2 linked regions of the Homo sapiens genome follow. Each later gene encodes a partner of the first gene's protein in a complex. Links are inferred from orthologs where the notes say so. Each region holds a gene or a part of one and is shown in the gene's direction. Other genes may lie near its edges.

Evidence for each region.
Region 2: the proteins of CSF1R (region 1) and CSF1 are in contact, whole or in part, in a crystal structure (PDB 3EJJ), measured with the Mus musculus proteins. The link is inferred for Homo sapiens from one-to-one orthologs. Residues at the interface, in NP_001032948.2 of Mus musculus: Arg142, Arg146, Leu149, Arg150, Lys151, Lys168, Val169, Leu170, Ser172, Asn173, Val231, Gly232, Phe233, Leu248, Ser250, Asp251, Phe252, Asp254, Asn255, Tyr257, Lys259; in NP_001107002.1 of Mus musculus: His38, His41, Met42, Gly44, Asn45, Gly46, His47, Phe87, Gln90, Asp91, Asp94, Arg98, Asp101, Glu110, Arg111, Gln113, Glu114, Leu115, Asn117.

Annotation. Positions count from the first base shown.
Region 1 is NC_000005.10:150,083,508-150,091,661, reverse strand, and holds the start of CSF1R (macrophage colony-stimulating factor 1 receptor isoform a precursor), read left to right. Parts: upstream 1-5,107; 5' UTR 5,108-5,234; coding exon 5,235-5,283; intron 5,284-8,154. UniProt on the Homo sapiens protein: Tyrosine-protein kinase that acts as a cell-surface receptor for CSF1 and IL34 and plays an essential role in the regulation of survival, proliferation and differentiation of hematopoietic precursor cells, especially mononuclear phagocytes, such as macrophages and monocytes.
Region 2 is NC_000001.11:109,927,831-109,931,760, forward strand, and holds the end of CSF1 (macrophage colony-stimulating factor 1 isoform a precursor), read left to right. Parts: intron 1-1,021; 3' UTR 1,022-3,162; downstream 3,163-3,930. UniProt on the Homo sapiens protein: Cytokine that plays an essential role in the regulation of survival, proliferation and differentiation of hematopoietic precursor cells, especially mononuclear phagocytes, such as macrophages and monocytes.

The DNA of each region.
Region 1 (8,154 bases):
TCATCACCCCAAAACAAAACCACCTCCTCATAAGCAATCACTCCCCATTCTCCCTTGCCACATCCCCTGGTAACCACTCGTCAACCGTCTGCCTCTACAGGTTTACCTGTTCTGGATGTTTCATATAGATGGAGTCGTATGACATTTTGCTACTGGCTTCATTGACTTAACACAGTGTTTTCAAGGTTCATCCACAGTGTAGCAGGTACCAGTATTTCATTCCCTTTATAGCTGAATAATATTCAATTGTATGGACACACCACATTTTGTTTAGCTGTCAACTGTTTCCACCTTTTGGCTACTGTAAATTGTGCTGCGTTGAATATTTGCGTGCATGTATTTATTTGGGTCCCTGTTTTCCATTCTTTTGGTTTTACCTAGAAGTGATATTTCTGGATCATATGACAATTCTATGTTTAACTTTTTGAGGAATTGTCAAACTGATTACCATAGCAGCTGCACCATTTTTCATTTTCACCAACATTGTACAAAGGTTCCAATTTCTCCACATCCTCACCAACACTTGTTATCCGATTTTTTTTATTATGATGATCCTAGTAGATATGAAGTGGTATCTCAAGGTGGTTCTGATTTGCACTTCCCTAATGACTAATGATATTGAGTATTTTTTCATGTGCTCTGGAGAAATATCTATTCAATGTTTTGCCTGTTTTTTAAAAAAATTATTTTAGACTCGGGAGTAGATGTGCATGTTTATTACATGGGTACATTGCATAATGGTGAATTTGGCTTCCAGTGTACCCAGTACCCAAATACTGAACACTGTACCCAATAGGTAATTTTTCACTTCCTTTTTGCCCTTTCCCCTTTCCTTCTATCCTTCCACTTTTGGAGTCTATTCTTTCCATCTTTATATCCGTGTGGACCCTTTGTTTGGCTTCCACTTATAAGTGAGGACATGCAATATTTGAATTTGCCTATTTTTAAATTTAATTGTTTTTTTGTTGTTGTAGGCAACACTACAACTTTCATTCTTTTTTAAAATTTATTTTCCCATAAATATTTATTAATTGTGAGGGACAATAGAGTGGCTTTAGCTACATATTGCGTGATTCTACATACATTCTTTAGCTACACACTGTATGATTCCATTTATATGACATTATCCTGTAAAGCACAAAGACATTGTGGAAAAGGCAAAACTGCAGGGATGGAGAACAGATCCGTGGTTGTTTGGTGTAAGGGGTTTGGGGAGGGCTTTACTATAAAGGAGCAGCATGAGAAACATTTTCTAGAGTGATGGAGCTGTTCTATATCTTGACTACAGTGGTGGTTACATTGTTATATATATTTGTCAAAACTCATAGAACTATGCACCAAGAGTGATTTTTGCTGAGGAAACACTACAACTTTCATTCTGTATATATTCTGGATATATTTATTTATTGTGGATATAAATATTCATTCTGTGTGTTTTTATTCTCTTGACAGTGTCCTTTGATGCACAAAAATGTTTAATTTTTATTATGTCCAATTTTTCTTTGGTTGCTTGTGCTTTTAGAAACATATCTGAGAAATCATTTCCAATTCCAAGGTCATGAATATTACCTTTATGGTTTCTTTTAAGGTTTTAATAATTTTAGCTTTTATATTTAGGTCTTTAATTCATTTTGAGTTAATTTTTATATGTGATGTAAAATAAGGATTCAACTTCATTCTTCTGCATGTGACTATCTAGTTCTTTTAGCACCTATGTTGAAAAAACTGGTCATTCTCCATTGGATGGTCCTGCCACCCTTGTTGAATATCAGTTGTCCATGAATGTGAGAGTTTACTTCCTGACTCTCAATTTTATTCTATTGATCCATATAGTTATTCTTATGCTGATACCACACTATTTTGATTTCTGTAGTTTTATAGTAGGTTTTGAAATTGAAAAGTGTGACTCCTCCAAGATTGTTTTGCATATTCAATGTCCCTCGAGATTCCATATGAATTTGAGAATCAGCTTTTCCATTTCTGCAGAAAAAGGCTGTTGGGATTTTGATAGGGATTATATTGACCCTATAAATCAGTCTCACTTTGAGAGTACCGCTGTCTTATTAAATCCTCCAACTTATGAAAACAAGGTGGTTTTTCATTTATTAAGGTCTTCTAAATTTCTTTCAACAGTGTTTTGTAGTTTTCATTGTAAAGTCATGCATCTCCTTAGTTTATTCCAAAATATTTTATTTTTGATACTATTGCAAATTAAATTGTTTTCTTAATTTCCTTATTGGAGTATTATCAGTACTATAGAGTTACGTATGTTGATCTTGTATCCTGCAGGTTTGCTGAATTTGTATATTAACTCTAATAGTTGCTTTTTGTAGATCTTTTAGGATTTATCTATATATAGGATCATGTCATCTGTGAACAGAGATAGTTTTACTTCTTCTTTTTTAATTTGGATGCCTTCTGTTTCTTTTTCTTCCTGATTGCTCTGGCTAGGACTTCCAGTACTATGTTGAACAGAAGTGGCGAGAACAGGCATCTTTGTCTTGTTCCTGATGTAAAGGGACCAGCTCTCAGTCTTTTACCATTGAATTAGTTGTGCTTTTTCACATGTGCCCTTAATCACGTTGAGGCTGTTCCCTTTTATTGCTAGTTTGTTGGGTGGGTTTTGTTTTGTTTTGTTTTTAATGAAAGCATGTTGGGTTTTACAGTTACATCAAGTGACATGATCATATGAGGATTTTTTTCATTCTATTAATGTGATGTATTACCCTGATTTTCATGTGTTAAACCACTGTTGTATTTCTTGGACAAATCCCACTTCATCATGGTATATAATCATTTTAATATGCTGTTAGATTTGGTTTGCTGGTGGCTGGGTGCAGTGGCTCACGCCTGTAATCCCAACACTTTGGGAGGCCAAGATGGGCAGACTGCTTGAGGTCAGGAGTTCAAGACTAGCCTGGCCAACATGGTGAAACCCTGTCTCTACTAAAAATACAAAAATTAGCTGGGCATGGTGGCGCATGCCTGTAATCCCAGCTACTCGGGAGTTTGAGGCACGAGAATAGCTTGAACGCGGGAGGCAGAGGTTGCAGTGAGCCGAGATTGCTCCACTGCACTCCAGCCTGAGTGACAGAGTGAGACCCTGTCTCAAAAAAGAAAGAAAGAAAGAAAAAAAAAAAAAGATTTGGTTTGCTAGTACATTTTTGAAAATTTTTGCTTTCTATATTCATGCATTTGTATTGGTCTGTAGTTATCTTTTCTGGCAATGTCTTGGTCTAGCTTTGGTACCAGAAAAATGCTGGCTTCATAGAATGAGTTGAAAAGGATTGGTATTAATTCTTCTTTAAATGTTTGGGAGAATTCACCAGTGAAGCCATCTGGTCCTGGGCTTTGCTTTGTCGGGAGGTTTTTGATTACTGATTAAATTTCTTTTCTTGTTATAGGTTTATTTGGATTTTCTTTTTCTTCTTGAGTCAGCTTTGATTGACATTCATGATTGCTAAAGGTTCAAAACACTTTTCTGAAAAAGAAAGTACATATATACACTCATAAATATACATACAAACACACACATACACACCACACACACACCTGAGTACACGGGAATGATCATTTTCCTGGATCAATGTTATATCAGGATTTTTCAATTTCAAGAAGGAACTTTAGGCTGGGTATAGTGGCTCATACCTATAATCCCAGTACTTTGGGAAGCCAAGGTATGCGAATCACTTGAGCTCAGGGGTTTGAGACCAGCCTGGACAACATGGTGAAACCCCATGTCTACCAAAAATACAGAAATTTGCTAGGAATGGTGGCACATGCCCCTGTAGTCCCAACTACTCAGGAGGATGAGGTAGGAGGATGGCTTGAGTCCGGGAGGTGGAGGTTGCAGTGAGCCGAGATCACACTACTGCACTCCAGCCTGGGTGACAGAACCAAACCCTGTCTCAGAAAAAAAAAAAGAAAAAAAGAAGAAGAAATGACCATGTTCTTTAGAGATAAGAAGTAAAATACTAAGCGAATCAACTAAAAGAGGTAAAAGCAATTGCCTCCAGGAAAAGAGGGAGCAAAGGAATGCTATATATTTTAAGAATTATGCAGAACAATTAGATTCTTTGTAAAAATAAATAAACAATGTAAGTAACGCACAAAAGATAGTTTTATAACCAGACTGCTGGGATCCAAATCCTATCTCCACCATTTGGTAGCTGTTTGACTATGGACAAGCTTAAGGCATTTGATCTCTCTGAGCTTTAGTTTTCCCATCTGTGAAATGAGAATGACAATAGTACTTACCTACATAAAGTTTTGCAGTACTAAAGGAGACAGTGAATGTAAAAGGTTTGGCTAGTAAATGTCCTGTAAAAGGAAGCTTATTGCCAATATTATCAGGCTCTCCCAGACCAACCTGTATACAGGAAGAAAACAAACTCCGTTTCTCCTATAGTCTCACAACACAAAATACTTCTGACCCCAGATGTAGAGGATGGGGCATATTTCCCCATACACCAAGCAATCAACCAATTGTTCAGATTCTGCAGCAGACACGAATCTGGTGCCCTCCGATTCAATTTGAACACTATATTTACCTAGAGATAACGTCAGATCTCACAGCTTGAAGGCTTGAGCCAGGAGTTTGAGGCTGCAGTGAGCTATGATCGAGCCACAGAGCTCCAGCCTGGGCAACAGAGTGAAACTGCGTCTCTAAAATAATAATAATAAATTTTTAAAAGATATGCATTACTTTGGAGATTCCAAGGATTTTAGGAGTTGTAAGCCAGGACATCAGGGTAAAGAAAAAATATATATGTCACAATATCATGCAACCTAACTTCTCTTTGGGATCTGCCAGAGCCACCTGATCACTCTGAAGACCCTCATTTGTGCTACTGACTAACGGTCTGGCTGCTCTTGGACATGTCTCTTCTCCCAAGACCCCTTGAAGATGGCTTTAGAAGGGCCCCAAACTTAGCTAGCTCCCCCCAAGCTCAGGCTGGCCCTGCCCCAGACTGCGACCCCTCCCTCTTGGGTTCAAGGCTTTGTTTTCTTCTTAAAGACCCAAGATTTCCAAACTCTGTGGTTGCCTTGCCTAGCTAAAAGGGGAAGAAGAGGATCAGCCCAAGGAGGAGGAAGAGGAAAACAAGACAAACAGCCAGTGCAGAGGAGAGGAACGTGTGTCCAGTGTCCCGATCCCTGCGGAGCTAGTAGCTGAGAGCTCTGTGCCCTGGGCACCTTGCAGCCCTGCACCTGCCTGCCACTTCCCCACCGAGGCCATGGGCCCAGGAGTTCTGCTGCTCCTGCTGGTGGCCACAGCTTGGCATGGTAAGAGCAGAACGGGGGGTGGGGGACTTTGTTGGGGTGTGATGGAGAAGACCCCTGTGAAAGGATTCAGTCCTTGCCCCTCACTGGGTGTCCTCAGGCTGTTTTAGTCTCCCCAACACTGGACTGCAGGCTTGTGGGTATCTGCTTTGGAGAGGTAGTGGGGTGAAAAGAGATGGGTGTGGTGGAACTGGTCCACCTGGTGCTGTGGATCTGTCCCAGCTCTGCCAGCGACTCACTGTGTGTCCTGAGCAAGCCTCTGATACTCTTGAGGCTTCAGTGTCCACTTCTATTCAATTGCAGGTGTTGGGGGCAGGGGGACAGTGATAGACTAGACCAGAGCAGTGCTTTTCATACTTTCCTGTGCATACAAGTTACCTGAGGATTTTGTTACAATGCAGATTCAGACTCAGTCGGTCTCAGGTGCGACCTGAGATTCTGTATATCCAACACACTCCTGGGAGATGTGAGATGCCGGCACTGCTGGTCCAGACCTACACTGAGTTGGGAGGACCTGGAGAGCTCCTGATGGCTCTGGCAGCTCTGCCAGCCTGTGATTCGATGATTCTATGCAAGATCTGATTTGGAAGGGCCTGATAGGGGTGGTGGTTCTTCCTTGGGTGGCTTGTGTAAGGGGTCAGAGGGGAGAGACAAGAGGTTGGCCTCTCTGGCCCAGGGCTCAGGAGAGGGGAATTCGGGGTGAAATAGGTATAGGGCTAGAGGAGGGATTGGGAAGAGGCCAGTGAGGGTCTCCTGGACCAGAGCCCTCCCAGACACAGGCTGCCAAGTCTCAGGAGGTCCCCAGGCTGTAGCAGTTCTGCAGAATTTCCATCTGGGAGGGAACATGACTAGAGGTGAGGGGCTGCTGTGCTTGGCTTGTTGGCCCAACAAACACATTTCTATTGCCTGCTTATTCAAAGGGACCTTGGGGGAGGATGGGGATTGAAGGGGAGAAAGGACAGCCTCATACTGGCCTCTTCACAGAAGGACCCTAAGGCCGTGGCGCTTCTGGTCCCTGATGAGGAGGAGATGGCCCACTGACCATCCTTCTCTGGCCCAGGCAATCACACTGAGCTTGAGTATTTGGGTTTTTTTTTTTTTTTTCCTGAGACAGAGTCTCTCTCTGTCACCAGGCTGGAGTACAGTGGCACAATCTCGGCTCACTGCAACCTCCACCTCCCGGGTTCAAGTGTTTCTCCTGTCTCAGCCTCCCAAGCTGGGATTACAGGCATACACCATCATGACTGGCTAATTTTTGTATTTTTAGTAGAGATGGGATTTCACCATGTTGGCCAAGCTGGTCTCGAACTCCTGACCTCAGGTGATCCACCTGCCTTGGCCTCCCAAAGTGTTGGGATTACTGGTGTGAGTCACGGCGCCCGGCCTGGACTTCTTATTTTGCAATGTAACTTACATGCAGTAGAAAGCACAGGTTCTTAAGTTCAATGAGGTCTGACAAATGCACACACAGTGTACCCGCCACCCCCTTCATCTCAGAGAGTCCCACAGGTTTGATTTCACTGCCTTGTCCTATCCTTACACCCACAACCTGCCTGTGGGGCAAAAACGGAAAAGTATCTGAGCCAGGTCTCAATTTAATTTTATTTTTTTTATTGAGATGGAGTCTTGTGGCCAGGCATGGTGGCTCACACCTGTAATCCCAGCACTCTGGGAGGCCGAGGCGGGTGGATCACAAGATCAGGAGTTTCAGACCAGCCTCGCCAATATGGTGAAGCCCCCTCTCTACTAAAAAATACAAAAATTAGCCGGGTGTGGTGGTGGGTTCCTGTAGTTCCAGCTACTCAGGAGGCTGAGGTGGGAGAATCACTTGAACCCGGGAGGCAGAGGTTGCAGTGAGCTGAGATCATGCCACTGCACTCCAGCCTAGGCGACAGAGCAAGACTCCATCTCCTTCCTTTCTTTCTTCCTTCCTTCCTTCCTTCCTTCCTTCCTTCCTTCCTTCCTTCCTTCCTTCCTTCCTTCCTTCCTTCTTTCTTTCTTTCTTTCTTTCTTTCTTTCTTTCTTTCTTTCTTTCTTTTTTCTATCTTTTTGAGACCGAGTCTTGCTCTGTTGCCCAGGCTGGAGTGCAATGGCATGGATCTCGGCTCACTGCAACCTCCGCCTCCGGGGTTCAAGCAATTCTGCCACTCCTGAGTAGCTGTGATTACTGGTGCCTGCCACCACACCCAGCTAATTTTTTTATTTTTGGTAGAGACAGGGTTTTATCATGCTGGCCATGCTGGTCTCGAACTCCTGAACTCAAGCGATCCCCCTGCCTTGGCGTCCCAAAGTGCTGGGATTACAGGCATGAGCCACTGTGCCTGGCTTCAATCAATTTAGAAGTTTATTTTGCCAAGGTTAAGGACATGCTGGCGAGAAAAAAACATGGAGTCACAAAAACATTCTGTGGTCTGTGCCATTCTGGATGAATTCGAGGGCTTTAATATTTAAAGGGGAAAGTGGGCTGGAGGGGAAAAGGGGAGGTTGTGGTAATCCACATGTTGCAAAAGAAAAGCAGCAGGTAGGGGAACAGTCAATTATCTCGGTTCAGTAAATTGGCTCTTTACATAGGGAAAGTGAACATAGAGGAGCTGCCTGTGGGATATTTTACCTTTTATCTGTCGCTATCTGCTTAGGAATAAAAGGCAAGGCAGCTTCTTGCATGACTCAGTTTCCAGCTTGATTTTTCCTTTTGGCAGAGTGAATTAGGGTCCCAAGTTTTTATTTTCCCTTCACAGGGGCATGGTGTGTGGGAGGGGGGCCAGATGGTTTTCCAGGGTCCAGTCCCAAGAGAAAGAAGAGATGGGGAGGCTGGAAACCTAAGTTTTCAGCCCAACAGACCAATGATGAGTGGATGAGGGGCCACTGTGAGGA
Region 2 (3,930 bases), on another chromosome or scaffold:
CAGACACCAGCACCTCAGCCCTAAGCAGCTAGAAGATGGGGCAGCAGGCTGGAACTCGCTCACTGGGTCCTTCTCCCCTCCTGGGCCCTAGCTGGGCCTGTGGCCTGGCTGTACCCAGCATGGCTCATGTCCAGTTTATGGTTCCCCTTCTTTCCCTCTAGAGCATGGGAATGGGCAGGGAGCCAGAGGCTGTGGTTCCATCTTCCCTCCTTACCCAGTAGGGCCTATGGATGTTAGGGAGGGAGGCTCCACACAAGGTCCAAAGTCAAACTGTTGGATGGGGTCCAGGGGATTTCTGCTCTGGGAACAAAGCGTCCTGAGGATGCTGGGCAAGAGGACAAGGATGGGGGTGGAAGGCGAGAGGACAAGGCCCTGACTCCCATGGATGATGCGGGAGGCAAGGCCCTCGGCCCATCCAGGAGGGGCTGGGTTGCTTAGGGGTCGCGTGCCAAATGACAGTGTGGGAATTTCCTTGTCCTGGCACTGCCTCTAGACTTTTCCTCTCTGGCCCAAGTTGTTCCTCTTCAGCTAGCTCTGCCCTACTGTCTTGAACATCATATGTGATGCCCCTCTGATGAAATGAAAGATTCTTCTTTGCTAGTGTTAGCAGGAATCACCCTTTGTTCACTGGACCAAGGCCAATGAGATGACCTCGCCTGAGGAGGGGTCCAAAGACATTCAAGTGCCCGCTTCGCTCCTTGTCAGAGCCCTCTGCTTGAGCAGTAACCCCTCTTCCCAGCCCTGCCCAGACCTCTCCCGGGCCCCGTTATCTTCCACTGAGGCCCTGATTCCCCAGGAGGAGGTAGGAGGTGAGGCCAGTTGGGCCAGAGGCCTGGGCTGGTGCCAGAGAAAGCTGCCTGGTCTCTCTGTGGTGTCTGGAAAGGCCAGGGAAGGGAGGAAAGGAAGTCCTGCCTGCAGCACCGCCAGCAGCCCACAGGAATGCCACACCTCCCAATCCATGTCCTCAACGACCCTCCCCGCATTCCCACTCTGCTGACTAGCCTTTCCTTCTCTCCCACAGCTGGACGCACAGAACAGTCTCTCCGTGGGAGGAGACATTATGGGGCGTCCACCACCACCCCTCCCTGGCCATCCTCCTGGAATGTGGTCTGCCCTCCACCAGAGCTCCTGCCTGCCAGGACTGGACCAGAGCAGCCAGGCTGGGGCCCCTCTGTCTCAACCCGCAGACCCTTGACTGAATGAGAGAGGCCAGAGGATGCTCCCCATGCTGCCACTATTTATTGTGAGCCCTGGAGGCTCCCATGTGCTTGAGGAAGGCTGGTGAGCCCGGCTCAGGACCCTCTTCCCTCAGGGGCTGCACCCTCCTCTCACTCCCTTCCATGCCGGAACCCAGGCCAGGGACCCACCGGCCTGTGGTTTGTGGGAAAGCAGGGTGGACGCTGAGGAGTGAAAGAACCCTGCACCCAGAGGGCCTGCCTGGTGCCAAGGTATCCCAGCCTGGACAGGCATGGACCTGTCTCCAGAGAGAGGAGCCTGAAGTTCGTGGGGCGGGACAGCGTCGGCCTGATTTCCCGTAAAGGTGTGCAGCCTGAGAGACGGGAAGAGGAGGCCTCTGGACCTGCTGGTCTGCACTGACAGCCTGAAGGGTCTACACCCTCGGCTCACCTAAGTGCCCTGTGCTGGTTGCCAGGCGCAGAGGGGAGGCCAGCCCTGCCCTCAGGACCTGCCTGACCTGCCAGTGATGCCAAGAGGGGGATCAAGCACTGGCCTCTGCCCCTCCTCCTTCCAGCACCTGCCAGAGCTTCTCCAGGAGGCCAAGCAGAGGCTCCCCTCATGAAGGAAGCCATTGCACTGTGAACACTGTACCTGCCTGCTGAACAGCCTGCCCCCGTCCATCCATGAGCCAGCATCCGTCCGTCCTCCACTCTCCAGCCTCTCCCCAGCCTCCTGCACTGAGCTGGCCTCACCAGTCGACTGAGGGAGCCCCTCAGCCCTGACCTTCTCCTGACCTGGCCTTTGACTCCCCGGAGTGGAGTGGGGTGGGAGAACCTCCTGGGCCGCCAGCCAGAGCCGGTCTTTAGGCTGTGTTGTTCGCCCAGGTTTCTGCATCTTGCACTTTGACATTCCCAAGAGGGAAGGGACTAGTGGGAGAGAGCAAGGGAGGGGAGGGCACAGACAGAGAGGCTACAGGGCGAGCTCTGACTGAAGATGGGCCTTTGAAATATAGGTATGCACCTGAGGTTGGGGGAGGGTCTGCACTCCCAAACCCCAGCGCAGTGTCCTTTCCCTGCTGCCGACAGGAACCTGGGGCTGAACAGGTTATCCCTGTCAGGAGCCCTGGACTGGGCTGCATCTCAGCCCCACCTGCATGGTATCCAGCTCCCATCCACTTCTCACCCTTCTTTCCTCCTGACCTTGGTCAGCAGTGATGACCTCCAACTCTCACCCACCCCCTCTACCATCACCTCTAACCAGGCAAGCCAGGGTGGGAGAGCAATCAGGAGAGCCAGGCCTCAGCTTCCAATGCCTGGAGGGCCTCCACTTTGTGGCCAGCCTGTGGTGGTGGCTCTGAGGCCTAGGCAACGAGCGACAGGGCTGCCAGTTGCCCCTGGGTTCCTTTGTGCTGCTGTGTGCCTCCTCTCCTGCCGCCCTTTGTCCTCCGCTAAGAGACCCTGCCCTACCTGGCCGCTGGGCCCCGTGACTTTCCCTTCCTGCCCAGGAAAGTGAGGGTCGGCTGGCCCCACCTTCCCTGTCCTGATGCCGACAGCTTAGGGAAGGGCAGTGAACTTGCATATGGGGCTTAGCCTTCTAGTCACAGCCTCTATATTTGATGCTAGAAAACACATATTTTTAAATGGAAGAAAAATAAAAAGGCATTCCCCCTTCATCCCCCTACCTTAAACATATAATATTTTAAAGGTCAAAAAAGCAATCCAACCCACTGCAGAAGCTCTTTTTGAGCACTTGGTGGCATCAGAGCAGGAGGAGCCCCAGAGCCACCTCTGGTGTCCCCCCAGGCTACCTGCTCAGGAACCCCTTCTGTTCTCTGAGAAGTCAAGAGAGGACATTGGCTCACGCACTGTGAGATTTTGTTTTTATACTTGGAAGTGGTGAATTATTTTATATAAAGTCATTTAAATATCTATTTAAAAGATAGGAAGCTGCTTATATATTTAATAATAAAAGAAGTGCACAAGCTGCCATGTGAGTCGTGGGAAAGTTGCTTTTGGGGTGTGGGTGGCAAACATCAGGGTGGGTGGGCAGCAGTTGCCGGATGAACCCCAGCTCAGAGAACCTTTTTCCACAAAACACAGGGGAGGAAGGTTCTCTCCAAGTTTCAGTCTTGGTACCAAAACCTCCTGTATTATTGCTGTCCCAAACACATTCATCTGCATATCTGCTCGTATTGGGCAGAAAGTGGCCAAACATCAGGCCTGGTCACTGGCCCCTGCTCCTGCCCAGCCTAGCCCAGCCTGGGAAAATGGCTGGTTGGGCTCTGTCCAAGGGCCCCGGCGGCCTGCAAGGATAAGGCTCCTTGACTGCTGAGCCCTGCTGACCAGGGCAGAGGTTGCTGGCTAGGTCCTTGCAGACTCTGAGGTGAATGAATTCTGTTTCCAGGCTGGGAAGTGAGTGTGGTTAGCAGGGGAGAGCCAGGAGTCCGTGTAAGGGCCCTCGTTCGGGCTCGACCTTCCTACTGGAGCTGGAGAGGAGACTGAGGGTGTGGCTTTCCATGGGGAGAGGGGTGTTAGGCAGGGCCAGAGGAGTTGAAGGCCCAAACATACACCCTGGGCAAAGCTATGACAAGAGGGGCCTCCCCATCCCTGAGGGAGTGGTAGACAGCTTTGGATTAGTGGTTCCCAACACTGGCTTCCGGGAGAATCACCTGGATTGTTTAAAAAAAATACTGATCCCCGAGCCCCACCCTAGATCAACAAAATCGAATCTTAGGGGTGAGGCTCAGGCACCAGA